Linked DNA regions of Homo sapiens. The protein of the gene in region 1 interacts with the protein of each later gene in a pairwise test. Each region holds a gene or a part of one and is shown in the gene's direction. Other genes may lie near its edges. The genes, in order: PATZ1, RBM10, IQUB, ATXN3, PRDM14, WWOX and CEP76.

Region 1 (3,500 bases):
TTTCTAAGGGGCTTTAGTCTGGACAATGAATCACATATCCCCTCCTGGAAAGGCTGCAGTGAGGCAGCTCTGTTTCATTCTACTGCCACCGCCTCTGGTCCTAGAAAACACTGAGTTTCTGGTGGGGAGAATTGAGGGAGTGGGGAGGCAAAATCAGAGACAAATGCCCATTTCTCTTCCCCCCTCCAGAGAAAACCAGGGCAGAGAGGCCTGGGCCTGTGGAGCCAGAACTGGGTGGTGACTTTGTCTTTGTCATGCTGGGGTTGGGGAGAGGGAGTCCTTTCCAGCAGTGAGTGTGTGTGTGTGTGTACACACGTATGCATATGTGCCTGTGTGGTGGGGTCTGGCCAAGTTTCTAAAGTCCCTCTTGGTTCTCTCTTTTCCAGGCCTGATCACTTGAACGGACATATCAAGCAGGTGCACACTTCTGAGCGGCCTCACAAGTGTCAGGTAGGGGCTGGGTCAGGGCAGAGATGGGCTGAAGGAGATGATGCTGTTCTCACGGTCGCAGCCTTGAGCCAGCCGCTGCGTGTGCCGGGGGCCCGGCTGACCGCCCACCGCTTTGCACACCTCCCCTCTGTTCCTCCACCCTCCCTCTGCTCTCCTCCTTTGTTCTTCCCCCAGGCCCCCTTCCCCCACAGCTGACGTTCCTCCTTCCTGGTTGCTTGGTCCTGGTTCCCACCCTGTCTTTGCCTTCACTCTGTTGCTTGGCTTTCCTCTCCTGGTGTTTGCCGGCTCCTTGGATGGTGGGCCGTATCACACAGATGTTGTGTTGGGAGACCCGGCACTGCGCTGGGCCTGACTGTTGGTTTCCAGCAGTTTGTAGGGACTGCAGGTTTTTTTAAAAGGGCTCCTGGTGGTCCAGCCAACCACTCTTCCCCTTTTCTGACCTCAGTTAGAGCTCCTCCTGGGTCCCCTCAGCTTAGGGCACAAGGCAGTGGGGGAGGTAGGAGGTAGGGAGTGGGTGGTCCCCTCTCCCACACTGGCATCTGTTTAACCCATCCTAAGCCAGGGTTTCTGGAGGACTGGAGAGCAAAGTGGGCTCTTCTTCTTTTAGCTCTTTGCAAAGTAGCAGGTAGGAAACGCTGGACCAGATAGATTCTCACCCTTGGTTTACCTGCTTGAACAATATCTGGGGGCCCTGCTGGTACCCAAAAGATTGAGTTTCCTCTCCTGGCCACTGAGCCTTCCTGTGTGGATAGCGAACACACCTCTGTCTTCTCCTTGGTTATCTCCCCTCTCCCATGCCAAGTTCCCATCAAGTGAGGGCGAGCCATGATTGTGGGGTGTGCACTGCAGTCTCTGATAGGATAACCTGCTTCTCCTTATCCTGTTGGTGGCAAGGGGAGAGGGTTCAGGGAGACCAGCAGGGAGGGATGAATGTGCCGTAAGTAGGGCAGAGCCCCTGGGGGTCAGGCGTGGACGGTGTTCACAGGTGCTGGGCTAGGCAGTCTCCCTGGAGGATGACCCAGGGTGGGCCTGCTGGGATCTGTCTTTGCCTTGCTGCCTTCTCTCTCTCTGTCTCTGATTCTCTCATCACAGAGCACATTCTGACTCAGGTAGTGTGCTGATTAGCCCGGGCAGAGTAGGAGGAGCCCAGAGGGCAGTGGGGGCAAGCCCGGTGGCCTGGGGGGGTAACCTGCACTCTCTGCCCTTTTTCCAGGTGTGGGTTGGGAGCAGCAGCGGCCTGCCGCCCCTGGAACCTCTTCCTAGCGACCTGCCATCATGGGACTTTGCCCAGCCTGCTTTGTGGAGGTCGTCCCATTCGGTTCCTGACACCGCCTTTTCCCTTTCTCTAAAAAAATCATTCCCAGCCCTTGAAAACCTGGGCCCAGCACACTCCAGCAACACTCTCTTCTGCCCAGCCCCGCCGGGATATCTGAGGCAGGGCTGGACCACCCCAGAGGGCAGCAGGGCCTTTACCCAGTGGCCTGTTGGCTAGCCTGGGCCTCCCTGGAGAGGGTTGACAGTGGAAGGGAACAGGAGGGGCATTTGGCCTGAGACCCCTGCTTTTGGGAGAGGCTAGCAGGGTGGTTCCTGCCCAGCATGCCCAGCTCCTCCCTGGGTGACTCGGAGTCTTTCCCATGTCAGAGCCCCCAAATGGGGGTAGCAAGGAGCACCTTTCTGGAACCCCCTATAGCATCCAAGTTTCTTTCTGGGCTCTCTTGCCTTTTCCCCCCTTTCACAGATGGCACCCCTGGGCATCTGTCCTTGCCTAGGTGATTTTGGAGGTTGGTGCCTTCCTGGGAACTAGCCACCAGCTTATCTGCTTCCCTTCCCCTGGCATCACTTCCCATAGGCCTGGGGTTTCTAGACTGGGGCCTGGCCACCCCTTTCCCCACTCCACGAGTGAGTCGGCCTCCAGAGAAGACTGGCACAATTCCAACTAGAGTCAACCCATGCTGCCCTCTGCCCTTCCCACTCAGATCTAGATCCTGCTTTCATTTCTGGCTAGTGAAGTAGACTTTTGTGTTTTTGAGGTTTATTAGCAGGTCTGCTCAGGAACCAAACTAATGAGTAGCTTTATATTGGGCCACCCCAATATATGGCTTTGGGGGCTGAAAAAGCAGATGTAGACCCCCTCCCTCGGATCCTTATTGGTGTGCCCTTTAGCACTCCGCAGACTCTGCGGGGTGAACAGGAGTGATGATAAAATTTTTCATTCTAACATTTGAGGCTTTGTGTGTTTTGTCCTTGGTCTGTGTCATAACACTGACATCACTGTCCCTTGGTGTACAAATGCGCTCCTGCCCTGCCCCTCCCAACATACACTCTCACAGACCTGCTGGCCCCTCCTCCAGCCCTACAGCCACAACTCCCCTAACGGACCCAGCAGGTGAAGACATGCTGGCTCTCTTGCTCTGGGCTGGCCAGCCAGGTGTGCCTGGACTTGGTTAAACAGCAGGGGCACCTGTTGGCATAGTGTGGGGATGCTGAAAACATAAGAGGTGAAGAGACGGCTCTCTGGGAGTTCATTCCTTGAGTTCCCCACTGGCTAGGCACAGTCCGTATCGCTCATCCCCTCCTGATGCCAGAGAGAATGAAAGAGGCCAGTTACAGAGACTAGTGCCATAGCTTAAGTAGAAAGGCCATCTGAATGTAGGGGCAGGAAGCCTCAGGCTTGACAGTGGCATGTCTCTTTGGGACTTGGCCTGAGTGTCCTTAACTGGCCCAGATGCCCCAGGTACTGCTGGATTTATGAGCTTAGTGGGCTGGGACATTTCCCCCACATGGAGTTCAACCTGAAGCTGAGAGGCTGGAGCAGCTCAGACCTCCCTAGCTTCCACGGGCTCCACTTCTTGGGGGCTGGTTAGAGAAGGAATGCGTTGAGATGGGCATATGCTCGAGAAGAAGGGGGCCAAAGAGCCCAGGGAGCTGAACCTTCATGCATTGCCCTTAGAGTTTTCCAGGGCTGTGGGAGAAAGCTGCTTGAGACTACCCCTGAGGCTGCCTGAGTTCAAGGGCTACTAAGGGTGGGGGTGTGCACTAGTGCCCTTGGT
Region 2 (3,500 bases), on another chromosome or scaffold:
TATTTTGTTTTCTGAAAAGTGAGCCCAAATTTGAGATAAGGTCATCACCTAGTGTTATTCAGTCTTGGCTTTCATTAGAAATGTTTTTTGAAAGACATTTGATTTTGGACGGTATTCACTAGAAGTGCTCTGTGGCCATTTCTGAATTTGAGTAGCTGACATACATACTTTGTTCAAACTTTATTACCAAGTAAAACCATTGACTTTTAAAAGCCCTCAAGTGCAGAGGTTTGAGTTCATCATACTTTCCAGTTCAAGGTAGGTTTCTGTCATAGGTCAGCAAAAGGCTTCCTCTTGTCATGTTTATTTTTTCATTTTTATTCCCAATTCCCACCTCTGTGGGCAGCTGCTCTGTCGTGTTTGATATGTATCCTTCTATGATACATATCATAGAAAATGTATCCTTCTATGATACATATCATAGAAAATGTATCCTTCTATGATACATATCATAGAAAATGTATCCTTCTATGATACATATCATAGAAAATGTATCCTTCTATGATACATATCATAGAAAATGTATCCTTCTATGATACATATCATAGAAAATGTATCCTTCTATGATACATATCATAGAAAATGTATCCTTCTATGATACATATCATAGAAAATGTATCCTTCTATGATACATATCATAGAAAATGTATCCTTCTATGATACATATCATAGAAAATGTATCCTTCTATGATACATATCATAGAAAATGTATCCTTCTATGATACATATCATAGAAAATGTATCATAGATTTATCATATAGATCATTTTCATATAAATGTATCATATAGATACATGTATCATATAAATACATACATAAATGTATCATATAGATACATTTTCATAGAAAATGAAAATATGAAGTGTTGTTTTGAGTGACTGTGTTTTCAGTTGACACACATGGCATGGTGCCACAGTCTTCGTTTTGTTTCCTGAACTTTGTATTACTCAGAGTGGGAGGTTTTTTTTGTTTTTTGTTTTTTGTTTTGAGACAGGGTGTCTCTATGTTGCCCAGGCTGGTCTCAAACTCCTGGGCTCAGGCAATTCTCCTCCCTTGGCCTCCCAAAGTGCTGGGATTAAAGGCATGAGCCGCTGTAACTGGCCAACAGTGCTGTTTTTTTTTGTTTGTTTGTTTTGTTTTGTTTTGTTTCTTTGTTTTGAGAAAGAGTTTCACTCTTGTTGCCCAGGCTGGAGTGCAATGGCGCAGTCTTGGCTGACCACAACCTCTGCCTCCCGGTTTCAAGCGATTCTCCTGCCTTAGCCTCCCACATAGCTGGGATTTCAGGCATGTGCCACCACGCCTGGCTAATTTTGTATTTTTAGTAGAGATGGGGTTTCTCCATGCTGGTCAGGCTGGTCTCGAACTCTCGACTTCAGGTGATCCTCCCATCTTGGCCTCCCAAAGTGCTGGGATTATGGGCATGAGCCACCACACCCGGCACAGTGCTGTATTTTTAACATCTGTCTGTATTGCCATGTATATGTTACTACTTTGTTTCTAATTGCTGGCAAGGGCATCATGGGGCATGTCTACTGAGTTTTACTTAATACTTCCCCCAAGAGTAGATGCCTGTTGTTAATTTTGATGTGCTAGCATCATTTTTTTTTTTTTTTTTTTTGAGACGGAGTTTCGCTCTTGTTGCCCAGGCTGGAGTACAATGGCGCGATCTCGGCTCACCACAACCTCCACCTCCCAGGTTCAAGCAATTCTCCTGCCTCAGCCTCCCAAGTAGCTGGGATTACAGGCATGCGCCACCACGCCCAGCTAATTTTTTGTATTTTTAGTAGAGATGGGGTTTCTCCATGTTGGTCAGGCTGGTCTCGAACTCCTGACCTCAGGTGATCCGCCTGCCTCGGCCTCCCAAAGTGTTGGGATTACAGGCGTGAGCCACCGTGCCCAGCCCAACGTCACCTTTTTTGCTTTATCTGTTAATGTATAGTGTTTTTTGTTTGTTTGTTTGTTTGTTTTGAGATGAGTCTCGCTCTGTCACCCATGCTGGAGTGCAGTGGCACGATCTCGGCTCACTGCAAACTTCGCCTCCCGGGTTCACACCATTCTCCTGCCTCAGCCTCCCGAGTAGCTGGTGCTACAGGCGCCCGCCACCACACCTGGCTAATTTTTTGTATTTTTAGTAGAGATGGGGTTTCACTGTGTTAGCCAGGATGGTCTCGATCTCCTGACCTGGTGATCCACCCGCCTTGGCCTCCCAAAATGCTAGGATTACAGGTGTGAGCCACTGCGCCCAGCCTAATGTAGTTTTTACCTTTTGCATTCAGATCTTTAATCCATCTAGATTCCACTCTTGAATATGGCATACGGTAGGCTCCGGTTTTATTTTCTTCCATATAGTAGGCAGTTTTTCCAGTACCACCTCCTAAATAGTCCATTCTTTCTTTATTGATCTGTGGTACCTCATCTGATTTCAGGTTCCCTCATGTACATGGATCCGTCTTGAGTGATGTGATTTGTTCCATTGGTCTATTTGCACATTCTTGTGCCAGCACCTTACTGTTTTTATTATTATGGCTTTATAGAATGTCTTAGTAGCTCCTTTGCACTTATTTTTCAAAGCTGGTTTAATCATTTATGGGGCTTTATTATATATCAAAAGTTATCAAAGTCCCTCAAAAACAACAAGAATTTTGATCGATGTTACACTGAACTTCTCTATTAATTTGGGGAAAATTATCTTTGTAAGTAGTCATTTCATCTAAGACCTTTGTAGAGAATATTTTGAAATTTATGTAAAGAGCATAAAAAGCTTTCATTTTCATAAATGGAAATACAGGTCTTATGTATTCTTTGTTAAAGTAATCCCTAGGTACTTCAGTCACTTTCATTATCTTTTTTTTTTTTTCTCGAGACTTGGTCTTGCTCTGTCACCCAGGCTGGAGTGCAGTGGCGACCTCCACAGGCTCAAGTGATCTTCCTACCTCAGCCTTCCAAGTAGCTAGGACTACAGGCACGCACCACCACGCCCAGCTAATTTTTTGTAGAGACGGAGTTTCACCATGTTGTCCAGGCTGATCTTGAACTCCTGAGCTCCAGCAATCCACCCACCTTGGCCTCCCAAAGTTCTGGGATTACAGGCCATTATCTTATTTTTTAAAAAATATTTTTCATGCTGGTATTTGCTGGGGTAGAGGAAAGCTGTTGATTTCTGTAAGTTACCCCTGCTGTATGCCCTTATTATTTCTAATACTTCATTGTTGATTCTGATGTTCTTTCTAAGTAGTTGGTCATATTGTATGCAAATCTATCCTGTCACTTATTTATTTTTCTTCATTTATAGTATTGTCCAGGACTTTTAGTACCATATTAAATAGTATAAGTGATACTGGGTACACAAATTAAGATTTACTTTGGCTGGTTGTGGCAGAAAGTCCAAAGGATAATGGCTTAGACAAGATAGTTTACTTTTCTTTCCCATAAAGGCAGTCTGCAGAAGAGCAATTAATCTAGGGCTGACAGGCAGCCCCTTCTGTGTAGCCATCCTCAGCA
Region 3 (3,500 bases), on another chromosome or scaffold:
ACCCATTGAAATTTTATAAGAAGATTTACTTTTGCCACAGTTGCCAGCTTTATTTGCCTTCTACAGAATTTTCTGTATCATCCACCTCACGCCGCATATACCGGTGTCGTAACTGCATTAACCTTCAGAATGAGGCTCAAAAACGAGAATCATTTTTGAAGTACAAATGTTTACTTCAACAGCTCTACTATACAGAAGCTGATTATGAAGATGATTCTAAAATTGCTTTCTTGATGCAGGTATGGTCAATAAGGGGTGCCAATTATAGCTGAAGCTTGTCAAGGAGGCTATCTTGCAATCTTATGTATGTTTGTGTGTGTGTGTGTGATTGTTTAATGACTCTCTATTCCACTAGACTGTAAGCTCTGTGAGGGCAGGAGTATGCTTTTTTTCCCTCCTGCTCACCATTATACCTCTATAACCTAATACAGTACCAAGTTTTTATTTAAGGCCCTCAATATTTGTTGAATGAATGAATGACTTTTACAGAAACTGATGTTACATATACACATACTAGTGTTTACGAATAACAGTAATAATTAGTGTAAACCAAATGTGACCATAATGGTAAATAACACCAAAAGTGAAAGCTAAGGCTTATAGAAAGTAAAAAAAAAAAAAAACCTTAGGGAAAGGCTTTGATACTTGTCTATGTAAAGTGTTGATATGATACCACACAACTGGAAAGTTTCTGGCCAGAGTTCTTTTGGATGAATCATTGCATTGGATCATTGACCCTACGTAATCTGCTTCTCGTAAGAACTTCTAGCTCTGTGAGAGGGTGGAGCCTGTGAGATCAGGAATTCTGACCTGAATTCCTAACTTAACCACTACTTCGGTCTCTTTGGTTATTCCATGTCTTCTATTGGGTTTAGGCCAGAGGATAGTCTGTGTCTCTACAAAATAAAAACAAATTCCTGACACTGTTTGGACTTAGGTAAGCAAGTGAGAAAACAGAAGGACTTACTTGTTGTTGATATGGCTACCCAACATTAGCCACTTATTAATAAAAGTATATTATAGAGCACAATTGACCTCATTAATGATATTTGTGTTCACAGACTGTCAAATAAGGGCAAATTTTCTGTAAATTAGTTACTAATTAAAATGAACTAAATTGTATTTAATACCAAATAGGAAAGTAGGCACTACTATGAATAGAAAACTTTATAGAGATTAAAAAAAAGATACCAAATGTGATGTGCTTTGTTAAAAAATTCTTCTAAATCCATAGCTTTCAAACTTTTAAATCTCAATCTATAGTAAAAATGTATTTTTATGACAACCTGATATAGGCATGCATGATAATTCTCAATACTCAGTACCTATATGGCTTTACACACTTTATTGAGTTAATCAGCACAAAAATCCTATCAAAATAGGCATTATTTCCATTCTGCAGGTGAGGAAAGGGAAGCACTGAGTGGTTAACTAACTTGTCCAAGTTTACGCTACTAAGTACCAGCACCAGGATTGAAAACTAGGCAGTCTGATTCCCAGCATCCGTACATGTAAACACATGCTGTTCTGCCTCAGAAATAAAAGTTTCCAAAATAGTGTTTATCTTTACCCCTATGGATGTACTCTGATATTTTCTATTCAATCTCAGTCTACTTATTCTGATTTCCATTTGGAAAACTTTGGTATCACCCAAGAGGTAGCAACCCACAGTTTGAAAAGCACAAATTAAAATGATTACATATTTTGTCCAATAGAATGAATATTTTGTTAATAAATTTGATGTTTATTTCAGCTTAAATTCTTATTTGCTACTTTTATTCAGGAATTATTGACATGACAGATGTATATTTCCTTGTAGAGAATCTTAGATGTACTAGGGCTTTAATGTAAGTCACCAAGAAGTGCTGGCTCAATATTCCATGTTGTATTAGTCAGATTTCTCCTGAGAAACAGAACCAATAGAAAATGTTATACATATATGTTATATATATATACATATAAGGAGATTTGTTACAAGGAATTTGCTCACATAATTGTGGAGGCTGGTAAGTCTAAAACCTAAACAGCTGATGGCCCAGTTCAAGTCTGATGACCAGCAGGCTGCTATAGAGCCAGGAGGAGCCAGTGTCTCAATTCAATGGCCATTAGGCAGAAACAGTCTTCCTTACTTGGGGACAGGGTGAACTTTTTGTTCTATTCAGGCCTTCAACTGATTGGATAAAGCCCACTCACATTATGGAAGACACTCTGCTTTACTCAGTCTACTGACTTACTTAAATGTTAATCTCATCCAAAACTACCCTCACATAAACACCAGAATACCGTTTGACCAAATATCTGGGTATCCGGTGGCATCATCAAGTTGATGTAAAATCAACCATTACACATATTGAATGAAAAAATTCTAGGGGAGCATTGTAACCTTTCAGATAAGGATAATCTCCATTAGATGTGATTTAATTTCAGTACCGTATCTATGTAGGGTTTTGGTCTATTACTTTTCCAATGTCTAGGATTAGCAGACAAATATGAGTGTCCAGTAGCTTCCCCCCCCTTGTAATTGGTGTAGTTTTGATTAATATTTATTTCAGTAATAGTATTTGAGGCATAATTTGAATGTTTGAACATTCTCATAAATAGTAAATCTTGTGGACAACAGCAAAGATTAGCATATGTTAAATGTGAACATGATGCCATGTAAAATGAAAAGGTGAAAGTTAATATATATAAAAAGTAAACATTCTGCTTAGACAAGAGATTTGAGTGTTGTACTAGTCACCTCGTTTATCTGTAATGCATACAAATACTGCCTAATATAATAGGCAATAGTATTGCTCTGTTACTGCAAAAATTTCAAGTACAATGACTACTTGAAAGGTAGAAAGCTCTTAGAGACTGTCAACCACACTTATGTGCACATTTGACATTTACATGCAAATAAACACGTTATTCTGTATGATACAATTTCAAAATTATTAGTACAGTTGAGCAACTAAATTAAAAACAAAAATGTAAACAAGATGCATTTTGAATGTAAGTAAAATATATAAAACATTGAATTTTAAAGGTCTATAAATTTATTTTTCATAGCAGCTGTGTACAGAGTATTGTCTTTTTTAGCATTAAGTAAAAGCTAGAATGCATTAGTTGAGCTTAATATATTGAATTACCAATTTATGAAATACTGTTGTAGCTGATGATGACAGGTTCTTTTTGTTTTTTACTTTGGCAGATTGTTTAGGTTTTGTGTACTCATTTTACAGAAAATATTTCTGCTCTCACACTTTTTCACAGAAGCTTTTTTAAAAAATATTCTTTTTACATGCTTATACTTTGTTGAGTTTGTCCGTCTCTGGCAATTCTAAATTTATAATGCAGACCCCATGATAAAAAGTCATTCCAAGAGTTTTAGCTGATAAGATTTACGTTTTTTAAAAAGTTTTAAACAGCTATTTCATTACCCCTCTTTTTGATTAAAACAACCAAGTCTTTTAATTAACACTAAGTGAATTACTTATCTTTATTAAATCTCAACTTCC
Region 4 (3,500 bases), on another chromosome or scaffold:
CATGCTTATTGCTGCTGGGTTTGTTATGTAGTTATTGTGAATTCACATTTAGGAATATAGGGTTTTTAATTCTTTGATTTTAGATACTTGTATCTTTTTTCTTTTATATTTAAAACCTTGGTTCCTGATGATATCCCTTCTTAGAAACCCTGTCTACCTTTGGCCTTCAGCCCACCATGCTGTGGTTTTCCTAACTTGCTGCCTGCACTTTTCAGATTCCTTTCATGGATCTTAAATATCATCTGTAAATAAGATCTATGTGTCAATAATTACCAAACTTTTATCTTTAGTCTTGACATCTACCCTGAACACCTAGCTTTGACTAACTCCTAGCTTTGGCATCTCCACTTGGAAATCCAAAAAGTGTTTCAAACTGAACATGTCTATGAAAGACTTATTTTTTTCTCTCTATCCATGCTATCCATCAGGTTTTCCATTTCCATAAGGGTGACTCTTGTACTCTGGTTCCTATATATTATACCGACAGAGCAGCCCAGAGTGCTTCTTAACCAGTGTAAGGCCTGTTATGTCCCACCCTCACTCTTTGTCCTTCAGTGGCTTCCCAGCACACTTAGAATAAAATCTGAAGTCTTAGGCCGGGCTTGGTGGCTCATGCCTGCAATCCCAGCACTTTGGGAGGATGAGGGGGCAGATCACTTGAGGTCAGGAGTTGATGAGACCAGCCTGGCCAACATGGTGAAACCCTGTCTCTACCAAAAAATACAAAAATTAACTGGGTGTGGTGTTGTGCACCTGTAGTCCCAGCTACTCGGGAGGCTGAGATAGGAGAATCACTTGAACCCGGGAGGCAGAGGTTACAGCGAGCCAAGATCATACCACTGCACTCCAGCCTGGGTGACAGAACGAGACTCTCAAAAAAAAATTAAAAAAAAAAAATATGTGAAGTCTTGAATAAAACCCAAGATCTTTACCATGGCCCCTGAACAGGGCAGAGTATCCATTCTTCAGACACTCTTCATAGAATACCATGGTGAGCTGGCATATTTATTATACAATACAGAAACAATTTTACTGGCAGAAAACACATTAAACCGTCTAAACTCTGAATACAGTTGTCCTCATAAAAAATGTTCAACATACTATTTTGAGGTTTTCCATTAATAGTTCTTATAATCTTTGTCCCATTATGTGTTAATCCAACAAAGGATATCCAATAACAAACACCAAAGTTTAAGAAAAATGTGCTAGGCGCGGTGGCTCACACCTGTAATCCCAGCACTTTGGGAGGCCGAGGTGGGCAGATCACCTGAGGTCAGGAGTTCGAGACCAGCCCAGCCAACATGGTGAAACCCTGCCTCTCCTAAAAATACAAACATTAACTGGGTGTGGTGGTGGGTGCCTGTAATCCCAGCTACTCAGGAGGCTGAGGCAGGAGAATCGCTTGAACCTCCTGGGAGGCAGAGGTTGCAGTGAGCTAATATTGCACCACTGCACTCCAGCCTGGGTGACAGAGTGAGACTCCATCTCAAATTAAAAAAAAAAAAAAATTAATGATAGAGAAACTTAAATCAGTTAGATTGTTTTAGGTATAGCCCATCCTTGGTTTTTGTGTGTAGCATCTAGCTTGGGGAAACCCTGGATTTCTGGAATCATATTTAGACACAGTCACACTAGACTAATGTAATTCTTTTGGGATGCAAACCACACGTTTGACACCTTAAATAGCTTTTAGGTATTTGGCTTCCCAGCCCCTATTTTTAGTTACAAGGGGTGTACATGTGTGGGTCAGGGTGGGGGTAGCTCTTTCCGCAGATGATTAGTTTTAGCCATGTTACTAGTTATTGCACACATTATCTGTGTCCTCACAGCAGCCCTGTGAGTAAGTGTATTAGGGTTCTCTAGAGGGACAGAACTAATAAGGTAGATGTATATATGAAGGGTAATGTATTAAGGAGTATCGACTCGTATGATCACAAGGTGAAGTCCCACAATAGGCTCTCTGCAGGCTGAGGAACCAGGAAGCCAGTCCAAGTCCCAAAACCTCAAAAGTAGGGAAGCTGACAGTGCAGCCTTCAGTCTGTGGCAAAAGGCCTGAGAGCCCCTGGCAAACCACTGGTGTAAGTTCAAGAGTCCAAAAGATGAAGAACTTGGAGTCTGATGTTTGAGGGCAGGAAGCATCCAGCATGGGAGAAAGATGAAGGCTCAGCAAGTCTAGTACTTCCACACTCTTATTTCTGCCTGCTTTATTCTAGCTGAGCTGGCAGCTGATTAGATGGTGACCACCCAGTTTGAGGGTGGGTCTACCTCTCCCAGTTCACTGGCTTAAATGTTAATCTCCTTTGGCAACACCCTCGCAGACACACCCAGAAACAATAATTTGTAGCCTTCAATCCAATCAAGTTGATAATATTAACCATCACAGGAAGGTACTAGTATCATATGTTTAACAGTAGAAACCAAGACAAATGCAGCTAGGAAGTGGGAGAACTGGGATCAGATGCAGGCAGTCTGATTCTAAATCAGTTGCTGTTACCCACTCTGACAACAGTAAGTGAGTAGCCTGCTCAGTCAAGTACTATATTAGTAGGGCCCTTTACAGACATATTTATTTCTCACAGTCACTCAATGAGACGGCTCTTCCAGTCTTACAATGGAGAAAGTGAGGCTCAGAGACTTTAAGTAACTTACCTTAGACGACTTTACTAGTAAGTATAAGAATCATTATTTGGACTAAAGTCTTTCTGAATCCTCAGCTTGTATTTTTTTCCAGTGTTCTGTGCTGCCTTTTTATCTACTAGTGTTTTACATCAATTTTGAATCTCTTTACTAACTGGTTAGGTTGATTTTTGCCTTTTTTTTTTAGGTTATTCTATATTTGTCGTTAAGGGTGATCTGCCAGATTGCGAAGCTGACCAACTCCTGCAGATGATTAGGGTCCAACAGATGCATCGACCAAAACTTATTGGAGAAGAATTAGCACAACTAAAAGAGCAAAGGTAAAAATGAGGCCTGCAGTATGGAATATATGGTAGTATTTCATTATGAGAATTAAATTTTCATGCTTAGATTGAATATGTGGTCCTTGTGTTGTTGGCGACTCTATTTTGGACCTTATATTTTAGTGAAGTTTATTAGTTTAAACTTGAATCAACTCTTTGAAATACTTAAATATATTAACTTAGTTAGCTGGTATGGTATATTCCTAGCACTTCGGGAGGCTGAGGCAGGCTGATTGCTTCAACCCAGGAGTTCGAGACCAGCCTGGGCAACATGGCAAAACCTCATCTCTACAAATAGTACAAAAATTAGCCAGATGTGGTGGTGTATGCCTATAGTCCCAGCTACTTGGGAGGCAGAGGAAGAAGGATCACCTGAAACTGGGGAGGTAGAGACTACAGTGAGCCATAATCACACTACCGCACTCCAGCCTGGTCGAGAGAGTCAGACCCTGTCTCAAAAAAAAAAAAAAAAAGAAACGGAAAAAAAAAACTTAGTTGGATTCAAATTGCAACACAATCATTATATTACTAGAGCTTATT
Region 5 (3,500 bases), on another chromosome or scaffold:
GTGAAGGTATTTCTCGCTTATTAGACTGGCAAAAGTGAAAACTATCCAGTATTCTGATAGTGAAAAGTTTGAGACTGCATGTTCATCAACACAAAATTGATTATATAAATTATGGCTTACTGGCCAGGCGCAGTGGCTCACGCCTGTAATCTCAGCACCTTGGGAGGCTGAGGTGGGCAGATCACCTGAGGCCAGGAGTTCGAGACCAGCCTGGCCAACATGGCGAAACCCCATCTCTACTAAAAATATAAAAACATTAGCCGGGTGTGGTGGCAGGCACCTGTAGCCCCAGTTACTCTAGAGGTTGAGGCAGGAGAATTGCTTCAACCCCAGAGGCGGAGGTTGCAGTGAGCCGAGACTGTGTCATTGCACTGCAGCCTGGGTGGCAGGAGTGAGACTCCATCCCAAAAAAAAAAAAAAAATATTGTCTTATCAAGCAAAAACCAAATTACAGAAGATGTATAGAATGCTTGCTCTCTTTGAAATTGGAGGCCGGGAGTGGTGGCTCACGCCTAATCCCAGTACTTTGGGAGGCCGAGACAGGTGGATCACGAGGTCAGGAGATCAAGACCATCGTGGCTAACATGGTGAAACCCCATCTCTACTAAAAATACAAAAAATTAGCCAGGCGTGGTGGTGGGCACCTGTAGTCCCACCTACTCGGGAGGCTGAGGCAGGAGAATGGCGTGAACCTGGGAGGCGGAGCTTGCAGTGAGCCGAGATCGCGCCACCGCACTCCAGCCTGGGTGACAGAGCGAGACTCCGTCTCAAAAAAAAAAAAAAAGAAAAGAAACTGGAGGGCTGTCAACCAGGAGGTCAGTAGATGACAGGACTGATGAGGAAGCTGGTGATAGTGAGATGATGGCTTACCCTTCAACAGACGAGGTGCTCTTACAGTACAGTGGAGGAACAATCTTTTTTTTTTTTTTTTTTTTTGAGACAGTCTCACTCTGTTGCCCAGGCTAGAGTACAATGGCATGATCTCAGCTCACTGCAACCTCCACCTCCTACGCTCAAACAATCACCCAACCTCAGCCTCCCAAGTAGCTGAGCTGAGGCTATAAGTGCATGCCACCATGCTCAGCTAATTTTTTGTATTTTTTGTAGAGATGGGCATGTGGTGCGCACCTGTGGTCCCAGCCACTCGGGAGGCTGAGACACCAGAATTGCTTAAACCCAGGAGGCAGAGGTTGCGGTGGGCCGAGATCATGCTACTGCACTCCAGCCTGGGCAACAGAGCGAGGCTCTGCCTCAAAAATAAATAAAAATAAATAAATAAACAAATACAAAGATTTGCTCTCTCCTCTGCCCCATAAGCATGCCTGGAAAGAGGTTGTGAAAGCACAGAAACCTTTCTCAGAGAAAAATTGTTTTTTCTCTTTAGTTAGTGTAATTTCCTTAAAAGTGATGTCAAAACCAAAGGCCTTCTGCTTTATCCCTGGCAAACTCTCGGTGCTTGCACCTCTCTGGTAGTTTACTTCACCTGGTGTAGAATTCCTGAGACAGTTTCGAGAGGAGTTGCCAGGGTCAAGAAACAATATTAATTATTCACAGCGTGTGAACAAAATATTAACCTCTTCATGCAAGTTCAACACGTCTCAGATAATCTGCTACTGTGCATTACCATGTTGGCTTACATGTTCATCGTCACCCCTCCTTGATTTCTAGCTCCTGGTTTCTAGCAGTGTGGAGCACACAGTAGGTACTCTGTAAGTCGTAGATAATTGTTGAGTTAATTGCACAGTACTTGTAGTTTACTCATAGCTCTGTGAGGAAGGCAGAGCAGGTATTTTGCCCATGAGCAAGATCGGGAAACTAAGATTCCAGATTTAACCAATGTTCTGTAGTCACACAGCTACCTGTTGAGAGAGCAGGACTAATTCAGGCCTCTGCCATATACCACAAACCTGTTCAGTTCCCACATTCCACATCTGAAGCAAGAGTTCTCTCAGGTCGGGTGCCGTGGCTCAAGGCTATAATCCTAGCACTTTGGGAGGCCAAGGCAGGAGGATCTGTTGGAGTTCAAGACAAGGCTGGGCAACATAGTGAGACCTCATCTCTACAAAAAAAAATTTTTTAAGTTAGCTGGCTTAGTGGCACGCACCTGTAGTCCCAGTTACTCAGGAGGCTGAGGTGGGAGGATCGCTTGAGCCTGGGAGTTCCAGGCTGCAGTGAACCGTGATTGTGCCACTGCAGTCCAGTCTGGGTAACAAATTGAGATCCCGTCTCAAAAAAAAAAAAAAGAAAAAAATTGGAAAAGAGTTCTTCTCTAACCCCAGGTAAACGCAAGGTTGAAATGGACTTGTTAGAGGAAGGTGTGATTTCAACTATATTTTTCTTTTTCACCTTAGTGTTCTACATGTGGGAAATGTTTCTCTCAATCTTCCAGCCTAAACAAACACATGCGAGTCCACTCTGGAGACAGACCATACCAGTGTGTGTATTGTACTAAGGTAAATGGAACCTCTTACTAAGGGATGTGTCCTGAGCTCTGCTTGAGTGTCTATGGATAAGAACTTGAAACAAAGCCTGGCTTAATGAGTTCTTGGTAAATGTTAGTCAAATATCAGCCCAGTCCTCATTTCCACCCCTAAATATGCTCAAGTTTGCTAAAGATGGTCAAATATAACCAACCTCCTATTGCCAAGCTGGCATTTAGAGTACATGTAATAAAATACATTCCAAATTTATGGGGACCTGATGACCTATTACATAGTATTTAAAAGCACTAGCTGAGTGTGGTGGCTCACACCTATAATCAAATTTTCCATGCATCGGTGGCTTATGCCTGTAGTCCCAGCTACTTGGGAGGCTGAGGCTGGAGAATTGCTTGAGTCCAGGAAGTGGAGGTTGCAGTGAGCCAAGATTGCACCACTGCACACTCCAGCCTGGGTGACAGAGTGAGACACTGTCTCAAAAAAAAAAGGAGGGGGTGGGGAGGCGTGGTGGCTCAAGCCCGTAATCCCAGCACTTTGGGAGGCTGAGGTGGGCAGGTGCCTGGAGATAGGGAGTTCGAGACCATCCTGGCCAGCATGGTGAAACCCCATCTCTACTAAAAATACAAAAATTAGCTGGGCATGGTGGCACGTTCCTGTAATCCCAGCTACTTGGGAGGCTGAGGCAGGAGAATCACTTGAACCCAGAGGCAGAGGTTGCAGTGAGTCAAGATTGTGCCACTGCACTCCAGCCTGAGTGGCAAAGTGAAACTCCGTCTCCAAAAAAAAAAAAAAAAAAAAATCACTATTTCATAGTATTTAAGAACACAAACATGGCCAAGTTTCAAATCCTGCCTCTGGTGCTTACCTAGCTGTGCCACCCTGAGCAAGTCCATGAACTCCTGTTAGTTTCCACATTGATAAACTGGGGAGAATAGTCTTTACCAAGTTGTTGGATAACATCAGTAAAGTATATAAAACTCTTGTAACAGTGCCTGGCATAACATAAAAGTACTACTGGAATGTTAACTGCTATTATTACTACTTTAATCTGTGAAGGATGCT
Region 6 (3,500 bases), on another chromosome or scaffold:
TGACAACTGCTGGGTGGGAGGGACAGGCTTGGGGGCGGGGCTGGGAGGGCTCCTTCCCTTCCTGACCCAGGGATGGTCTTTACTTCTCCCTGGCACCTGTAGACCTGTCTTTCTTGTGTTTCAGATTTGCCATACGGATGGGAACAAGAAACTGATGAGAACGGACAAGTGTTTTTTGTTGAGTAAGTGTCTGCAAAGAAACCACTCTCAGCTGTTTTGCTTTTTAATAGGAATTTTTAATTATAAAAGTAATACATAGTAACTGTAGAAAAATACAAAGTATAACAGTGTGTATCTGTAATCTTAGCAGAAGTGACTACTTTTAACATCGCTGGAACTTTTAACATCGCTAGATTTATTCTTCTATTTTCCCCGCACACGCATCCTTAAAAAAAAAAAGTAGGGAGGCCAGGCATGGTGGCTCATGCCTGTAATCCCAGCACTTTGGGAGGTCGAAGTGGGTGGATCCTGAGGTCAAGAGATCGAGACCATTCTGGCCAACATGGTGAAACTCCGTCTCTACTAAAAATATAAAAATGAGCTGGGTGTGGTGGCACGTGCCTGTGGTCCCTGCTACTCGGGAGGGTAAGGCGGGAGAATCACTTGAACCCAGGAGGCGGAAGTTGCAGTGAGCTGAGATCGCGCCACTGCACTCCAGCCTGGGTGACAGAATGAGACTCCTTCTCAAAAAAAAAAAAAAAAAAAAAAGAGGGAATGCACTGTGTGGACTGTTTAGTAACCTGCTTTTTCCATGTAATATATTATGAGCATTTTCTTGTATCCATATCTATTTTTCAAAAAGATGCTATTTAGCAGCTCTAGAGTTATTATTTTGTACAGATATACTATAATTTATCAAATTGCCTATTGGACATTAATGCTAAATTCCTGTTATAGAGAACCTATAATTATAAATAATGTATTGAGCATCCTTATCTGTAAGACTTTTTCACCTCTCTGATTCTGTCTTTAGGATAAATTCCGGTATCACGCAGCAATAGTAACCACCTGTCCAACATATAGCATGAGCCAGGCCTGATTCTAATCATCTTGTATCTGTAGCATTAGGTCATTGGATCCCCACAGTGCCCTGAGAGGTAGTATTGTTATTATCCCTAGCTTACTGCCAGTGACACAGACTTGAGGGGGTAAGTGACTTGTTAAGGATCCCACAGCAAAGAAGTAGCACAGCCAGGCTTTGAGCCCAGCACCTGCTCCAGGGACTGTACTCTTGACCACCGTAGTTAAGAGGAGAATTAATGTTTCACAACTGTCAACATTTAAATTAGAAGCTTGAATAGTCTTTGACAGGATTAGGATTGGTTGGTTAATAGAAGTTGATTTGAGCAGGAATTTTTTTTTTTTTTAAAGTTATGAATGTAACATAAACGTTTCAGTATTTGATTCAAGTACACCAACATTTAGGGGTCGGGCCAGCCCTCCTCTGAGTGTGAGTCCACTTGCATGGATCCAGTGTGGTCTTCCTTCCCCTAAGCATGCCTGTAACATAACATCTACAATTTCTACTTTCATTTTATGTGGGCGAAAGAGTACCTAGGTGCCGAGGCAAGAGACTGAAGGCACAAACTGTTTCAGTATAATAAAGAAAGTAGTTAGAATAAGAATAGTCATAATACAGGTTAGATATGGAGATGATCATGGACAATTATCAATCATTACTATAAACACTATTAATCATTAGCTTTTAATATTACTCTTTGTGGCATTACTAACATAACCTAGGAATAACTGGCATGTATAGGCTCAGGTGCTAAAGGGACATTGTGAGAAGTGACCTAGAAGGCAAGAGGTGAGCCTTCTGTCACACCCGCATAAGGGCTGCTTGAGGGCTCCTTGGTCAAGCGGTAACGCCAGTGTCTGGGAAGACACCCGTTACTTAGCAGACCGCGAAAGGGAGTCTCCTTTCCTTGGAGGAGTCAGGGAACACTCTGCTCCACCAGCTTCTTGTGGAAGGCTGGGTATTATCCAGGCCTGCCCACAGTCATCCGGAGGCCTAAACCCCTCCCTGTGGTGCTGTGTTTCAATGGTCACGTACGTTGTCCGCTTTCATGCTCCTCCCGTACTCCTGGTTCCTCTTTGAAGTACGTAGTAGATAGTGGTAGAAGAAATGGTGAAAGTTTTAAAGTCTTTGATCTTTCTTTTAAGGGCAGAAAAGAAAATGCTGACGTATGCTGCCTTCTCTCTCTGCTTCGGCTACCTAAAAGGGAAGGGCCCTCTATCCTGTAATCACGTGACTTGCTTCACCTTGTCAATCACTTAGAAGATTCACCCTCCTTACCCTGCCCCCTTGTCTTGTATGCGATAAATATCAGCGTGCCCAGCCGTTCGGGGCCACTACCGGTCTCCACATCTTGGTGGTAGTGGCCCCCACCCTGGGCCCAGCTGTTTTCTCCTTATCTCTTTGTCTTGTGTCTTTATTTATTACAATCCCTCGTCTCTGCACACGGGGAGAACACCCGCTAAGCCCAGTAGGGCTGGACCCTACAACTTTAAGGTTGAGCAAACACAGTATTTTCAAAGAATCTGATTGCTACATCATTTGGGAGTTTTATGGTATTTTTCTAGCATTTTCACTGTAGTTGATTGAACCAAAACTTTTTTTTTAGCTGCTTGTCTTTGAGGCTCTCCAAAGCATTCGACCACATTTTCATAGATACCACTGACACTATTTTTCACCTCCCATGTTATCAGTTTGTGTAATAGTAGCTTGCTGGTAATGTAGTTACAGTAACAAGTTCAAATGACATGTGTGTTTTTTGAGCAAACCTGGTGAACTTTTGGTGCAAAACTGATATTGAGAGCAAATAGGCCAAAGCTTGCTTGAGAGAAGTCTCCCAGGCCACCATAGGCAGCCCCAGGAAGACGGGGCTGTCTAGCAGTTGGATAGGTGGGAGTGCCTATTATTTGTTAAAAGGCTTTTTGCCTAACTTGTGAAAGTTTTTTTTCCTCAACTAATTAAGGGTATCAACGCATTGGTTGTATGTTGAAAATGTTGAAAATGTTTTTTTTTTTTTTCCAAGTTTTCTTTCTTTTTTTTTTTTTATACTGGGTCTTGCTCTTCTTATCCAGGGCTGAGGTGCAGTGACACAGTCACAGCTCGCTGCAGCCTCAACCTCCTGGACTCAAGTGATCCTCCTGCCTCAGCCTTCTGAGGAGCTGGGACTACAGGCTCATGCTGCCATGCCCAGCTAATTTTTAAAGACTTTTTTTTTGTAGAGACTGAGGCTCAGTATGTTGCCCAGGCTGGTCTTGAACTTCTGGCCTTCAGCGATCCTCCTGCCTTGACTTCCCAAAGCATTCATATTACAGGCATGAGCGACCACACCTGACTGAATTTCTTAAATTTTTTATGTAGTCAAATCAATTTTCTCCTGTGCAGTCTTTGCCTTTGCATTCACGCTTGGAAAGTTACTCCCTGAAATGGGTATTAATCAACCAAGAGCAGCAGTTCTCAGGCATGGTTCCTGGACCAGCAGCAT
Region 7 (3,500 bases), on another chromosome or scaffold:
TTATAAAAACAATAGTTATAAATCAAAACGTTAATATACATATCCAGGCCAAAAAAATTTCTAATGTATCCAGCACTGAAAGTAAAGTAAAGAACTTTTTTTTGTTGTTGTTGTGAGACAGAGTCTCAGTCACCCAGGGTTGAGTGCAGTGGTGCGATCTTGGCTCACTGCAACCTCCACCTCCCAGATTCAAGTGATTCTCCTGCCTCAGCCTCCCAAGTAGCTGGGACTACAGGCACGTGCCACCATGCCTGGCTAATTTTTTGTGTTTTTAGTAGAGATGGGGTTTCACTGTGTTAGCCAGGATGGTCTCGATCTCCTGACCTCATGACCCGCCCGCCTCGGCCTCCCAAAGTGCTGGGATCATAGGCGTGAGCCACCACACCTGGCCAAGAACTTTTTGCAATGATGGAAATGTTCTGTATCTGTGCTAACCAGTATGGTAGCCACCAGCCATGTACTGAGCATTCAAAATGTGGCTATTATGACTAAAAATAATTGAATTTTAAATTTTAATTAAAATTTAAATAGCTCATAATGGTTAGTGATTTTCTCACTGGACAGTGCCCATTCAGAGGTTGAAATATTAACTTTTCAAAACAGTTAAGTAGCTTGTGGGGATATATTTAGATAATATTAGAATATTGCTGTAATAAAATGATATATCTTACATTCTAAGATGCTACTATTGATGATTGACTTAGGCAAATGCTTCCACTTCTTATGTGCTCATCTTTTCTTGCCTGTTAGTGGATTTGTAAGAATAGGAGTAACAGTCCTGCACCTCAATACTAACCAAAGATCTGTAGATTTGCCGTGGCCATTATACTTAAAAATTCATTATTCTTTTTACCCTTTGTTAGCTGGTTTTGCTATAGTATAGTAGTAATTCATTGAATGATGCTTTTTGAACTTTTTAGTGCAAGAAACTTTAAAATAAGTTACAGAAATTGAACTTTAAGGCCACTAGGTTTTGTTTTTTTTTTTTTTTTTTTGAGATGGAGTCTCGCTCTCGCCCAGGCTGGAGTGCAGTGGCACGATCTCGGCTCACTGCAAGCTCCGCCTCCCAGATTCATGCCATTCTCCTGCCTCAGCCTCCTAAGTTGCTGGGACCACATGCCTGGCTAATTTTTTTTGTATTTTTAGTGGAGATGGGGTTTCACCATGTTAGCCAGGATGGAATTGATCTCCTGACCTCGTGATCCACCCACCTTGGCCTCCCAAAGTGCTGGGATTACAGGCGTGAGCCACCGTGCCCAGCCTAAGGCCATTAGGTTTTAAGAAAATGTTGTAAATCACTTGAGGATTGAGGATATTCTTTTAATATTTAGTTTGTGATTTCAGGACTTAGTATTCTTATACCACACTAGATTATTAGTAATGCTAAGTTCATGTAAAAGAAAACCATAGTTCTCTACATCCCCCCAAAATTAGAATAATAATCCTCTGTTTTAAAAATCGGTGCCCTCTAGGCCAGGCACAGTGGCTCACACCTGTAATACCAGCACTTTGGGAGGTCGAGGTGGGCGGATCACTTGAGGTCAGGAGTTTGAGACCAAGCCTGGTCAACATCGTGAAACCCCATCTCTACAAAAATACAAAAATTAGCCAGGTGTGGTGGCACATACCTGTAATCCCAGCTACTCAGGAGGCCGAGGCACAAGAATCGCTTGAACCCATGGGCGGAGGTTGCAGCGAGCCGAAATCACACTACTGCACTCCAGCCTGGACAACAGCGAGACTCTGTCTCAAAAAAAAAAAAAAAAAAATTGATGCCTTCTATAGTTGAGAACTATAGGTATGAGTGGAATCTATAGCCAAGTTGCTCTGCAACATAAAAATTAATGATCTTTCTCATTATAATCAAATGTAAATAAGTGAGTTTTTTTTTCCTTGCTAAAGTATGGGACTATATTGGAAAAAGATGTTCTGGTTGTGGAGAAAGACATCAGTGGTTCTGATAATTCAAACAGATGGTGTTTCTTTTGGCTGGGTTAGATCTCATGTCCTGAGGAACCCTATCAGGGAGGGTAGGTCATCTCCAAATCTTGAATAGTAAGTGGCCCTTTCACAGTGCCGTATCAGTAACCATGAAGGTAAAGAGATTGTGGACTTTGGTAATACTCACTGTAAAATCACAGTGGTAGACAGTCATCAGAGACCTATATATGCATACAAGTTATTCAGCACCAACACCAGGAGATATCCTGTATTTAGGATGTAAAACTTTTTCTAGAGTGTTTTTTGAAATTTTGCTTTCAATTGACTTGGTTAACAAATTATTGTTTCCTGTGGATCTCTAAATTTGAGGCCCTAATGGAAACAAACTAGAATCAAGCTACAATCATTTCTGTTATATCAGCCAATCAGAAGAGTTATTTGTTCTGTCTGGCTATATGTTGTTAAATTCTATATGGTAATGTGAAAAAATACTTCAGCTTAGAGCACCTCTCCCTCCCCTACATACCTACCCACACATTTCTCAGAGGAGTTCTTATTGCCACAGCCTTTGGAGTAAAACAGCTCAGAGCTTGAACCTGGCTCTGTTGCATAATAGCTGTAGCTCCTCAGTTTTCATCTATAAAATGAAAATAACGGAGATGAGGATTAAGGGAAATTATATACACAGCACTTTGCAGCCAAATACTGGATACAAGGTAAGCACTCGATCAATGGTATGCTGAATTATTTTATCCTACATTAATGTATTTGAAAAAAACATAATTGGGGATGATTAATATGTCATTACAGATGTTTTTCCCCTTTTCCCTAGGATGAAAATGGGATAAATAGACCAGTCTGTTCCTATGTTAAACCACTTCGAGCTGGACGGCTTCTTGATACTCCAAGGCAAGCAGCAAGATTTGTTAATGTCCTTGGTTATGAACGAGCCCCTGTTATTGGAGGAGGAGGTAAACAGGAGCAGTGGTGCACTCTGCTGGCCTTTCTCTGTAGAAACAAGGTATTATACACACATAATAGAATTAAGTAGCAGTATATCATAGTTACTCTGAATTTGTAATCCATTTGTAAAAGAATGCCTTAGAAAAATGCACATATAGTCAACCCTCTGTACCCACAGGTTCTGTATCTGTAGATTCAACCAACTGCAGATCAAAAATACTTACAAAAGTAAAAAATTACAATAATAAAAAATAGTACAAATTAAAAAATGGTGTGTAACAACGTTTATGTAGCATTTACATTGTATTGAGATTTTTAAACAATTTAGAGGTGATTTAAAGTATATAGGAGGATGTGCTTAGGTTATATATAAAATACTATACCATTTTGGCTGGCCGCAGTGGCTCATGCCTGTATCCCAGCATTTTGGGAGGCTGAGGCAGGTGGATCACCTGAGGTCAGGAGTTCAAGACCAGTCTGGGCAACATGGTGAAACCCTATCTCTACTAAAATACAAAAAATTATCTGGGCATGGTGTCGTGTGCCTGTAATCCCAGCTACTCAGGAGGCTGAGGCAGGAGAATCACTTGGACCCT

The links.
Region 2: the proteins of PATZ1 (region 1) and RBM10 interact in binary tests that used the Homo sapiens proteins (3 or more experiments, as listed by UniProt).
Region 3: the proteins of PATZ1 (region 1) and IQUB interact in binary tests that used the Homo sapiens proteins (3 or more experiments, as listed by UniProt).
Region 4: the proteins of PATZ1 (region 1) and ATXN3 interact in binary tests that used the Homo sapiens proteins (3 or more experiments, as listed by UniProt).
Region 5: the proteins of PATZ1 (region 1) and PRDM14 interact in binary tests that used the Homo sapiens proteins (3 or more experiments, as listed by UniProt).
Region 6: the proteins of PATZ1 (region 1) and WWOX interact in binary tests that used the Homo sapiens proteins (3 or more experiments, as listed by UniProt).
Region 7: the proteins of PATZ1 (region 1) and CEP76 interact in binary tests that used the Homo sapiens proteins (3 or more experiments, as listed by UniProt).

The regions. Positions count from the first base shown.
Region 1 is NC_000022.11:31,339,847-31,343,346, reverse strand, and holds part of PATZ1 (POZ-, AT hook-, and zinc finger-containing protein 1 isoform long C), read left to right. Parts: intron 1-386; coding exon 387-450; intron 451-1,663; coding exon of another isoform or gene 1,664-1,942; exon of another isoform or gene 1,943-2,668; intron 2,669-3,500. UniProt on the Homo sapiens protein: Transcriptional regulator that plays a role in many biological processes such as embryogenesis, senescence, T-cell development or neurogenesis. Interacts with the TP53 protein to control genes that are important in proliferation and in the DNA-damage response.
Region 2 is NC_000023.11:47,148,221-47,151,720, forward strand, and holds part of RBM10 (RNA-binding protein 10), read left to right. Parts: intron 1-3,500. UniProt on the Homo sapiens protein: Binds to ssRNA containing the consensus sequence 5'-AGGUAA-3'. May be involved in post-transcriptional processing, most probably in mRNA splicing. Binds to RNA homopolymers, with a preference for poly(G) and poly(U) and little for poly(A).
Region 3 is NC_000007.14:123,458,096-123,461,595, reverse strand, and holds part of IQUB (IQ motif and ubiquitin-like domain-containing protein), read left to right. Parts: coding exon 1-239; intron 240-3,500. UniProt on the Homo sapiens protein: Adapter protein that anchors the radial spoke 1 (RS1) complex to the A microtubule of outer doublet microtubules in axonemes. The triple radial spokes (RS1, RS2 and RS3) are required to modulate beating of the sperm flagellum.
Region 4 is NC_000014.9:92,082,583-92,086,082, reverse strand, and holds part of ATXN3 (ataxin-3 reference isoform), read left to right. Parts: intron 1-2,579; exon of another isoform or gene 2,580-2,670; intron 2,671-2,824; coding exon 2,825-2,957; intron 2,958-3,500. UniProt on the Homo sapiens protein: Deubiquitinating enzyme involved in protein homeostasis maintenance, transcription, cytoskeleton regulation, myogenesis and degradation of misfolded chaperone substrates.
Region 5 is NC_000008.11:70,054,253-70,057,752, reverse strand, and holds part of PRDM14 (PR domain zinc finger protein 14), read left to right. Parts: intron 1-2,351; coding exon 2,352-2,453; intron 2,454-3,500. UniProt on the Homo sapiens protein: Transcription factor that has both positive and negative roles on transcription. Required for the maintenance of embryonic stem cell identity and the reacquisition of pluripotency in somatic cells.
Region 6 is NC_000016.10:78,109,654-78,113,153, forward strand, and holds part of WWOX (WW domain-containing oxidoreductase), read left to right. Parts: intron 1-124; coding exon 125-182; intron 183-3,500. UniProt on the Homo sapiens protein: Putative oxidoreductase. Acts as a tumor suppressor and plays a role in apoptosis. Required for normal bone development. May function synergistically with p53/TP53 to control genotoxic stress-induced cell death.
Region 7 is NC_000018.10:12,685,724-12,689,223, reverse strand, and holds part of CEP76 (centrosomal protein of 76 kDa), read left to right. Parts: intron 1-2,773; coding exon 2,774-2,962; intron 2,963-3,500. UniProt on the Homo sapiens protein: Centrosomal protein involved in regulation of centriole duplication. Required to limit centriole duplication to once per cell cycle by preventing centriole reduplication.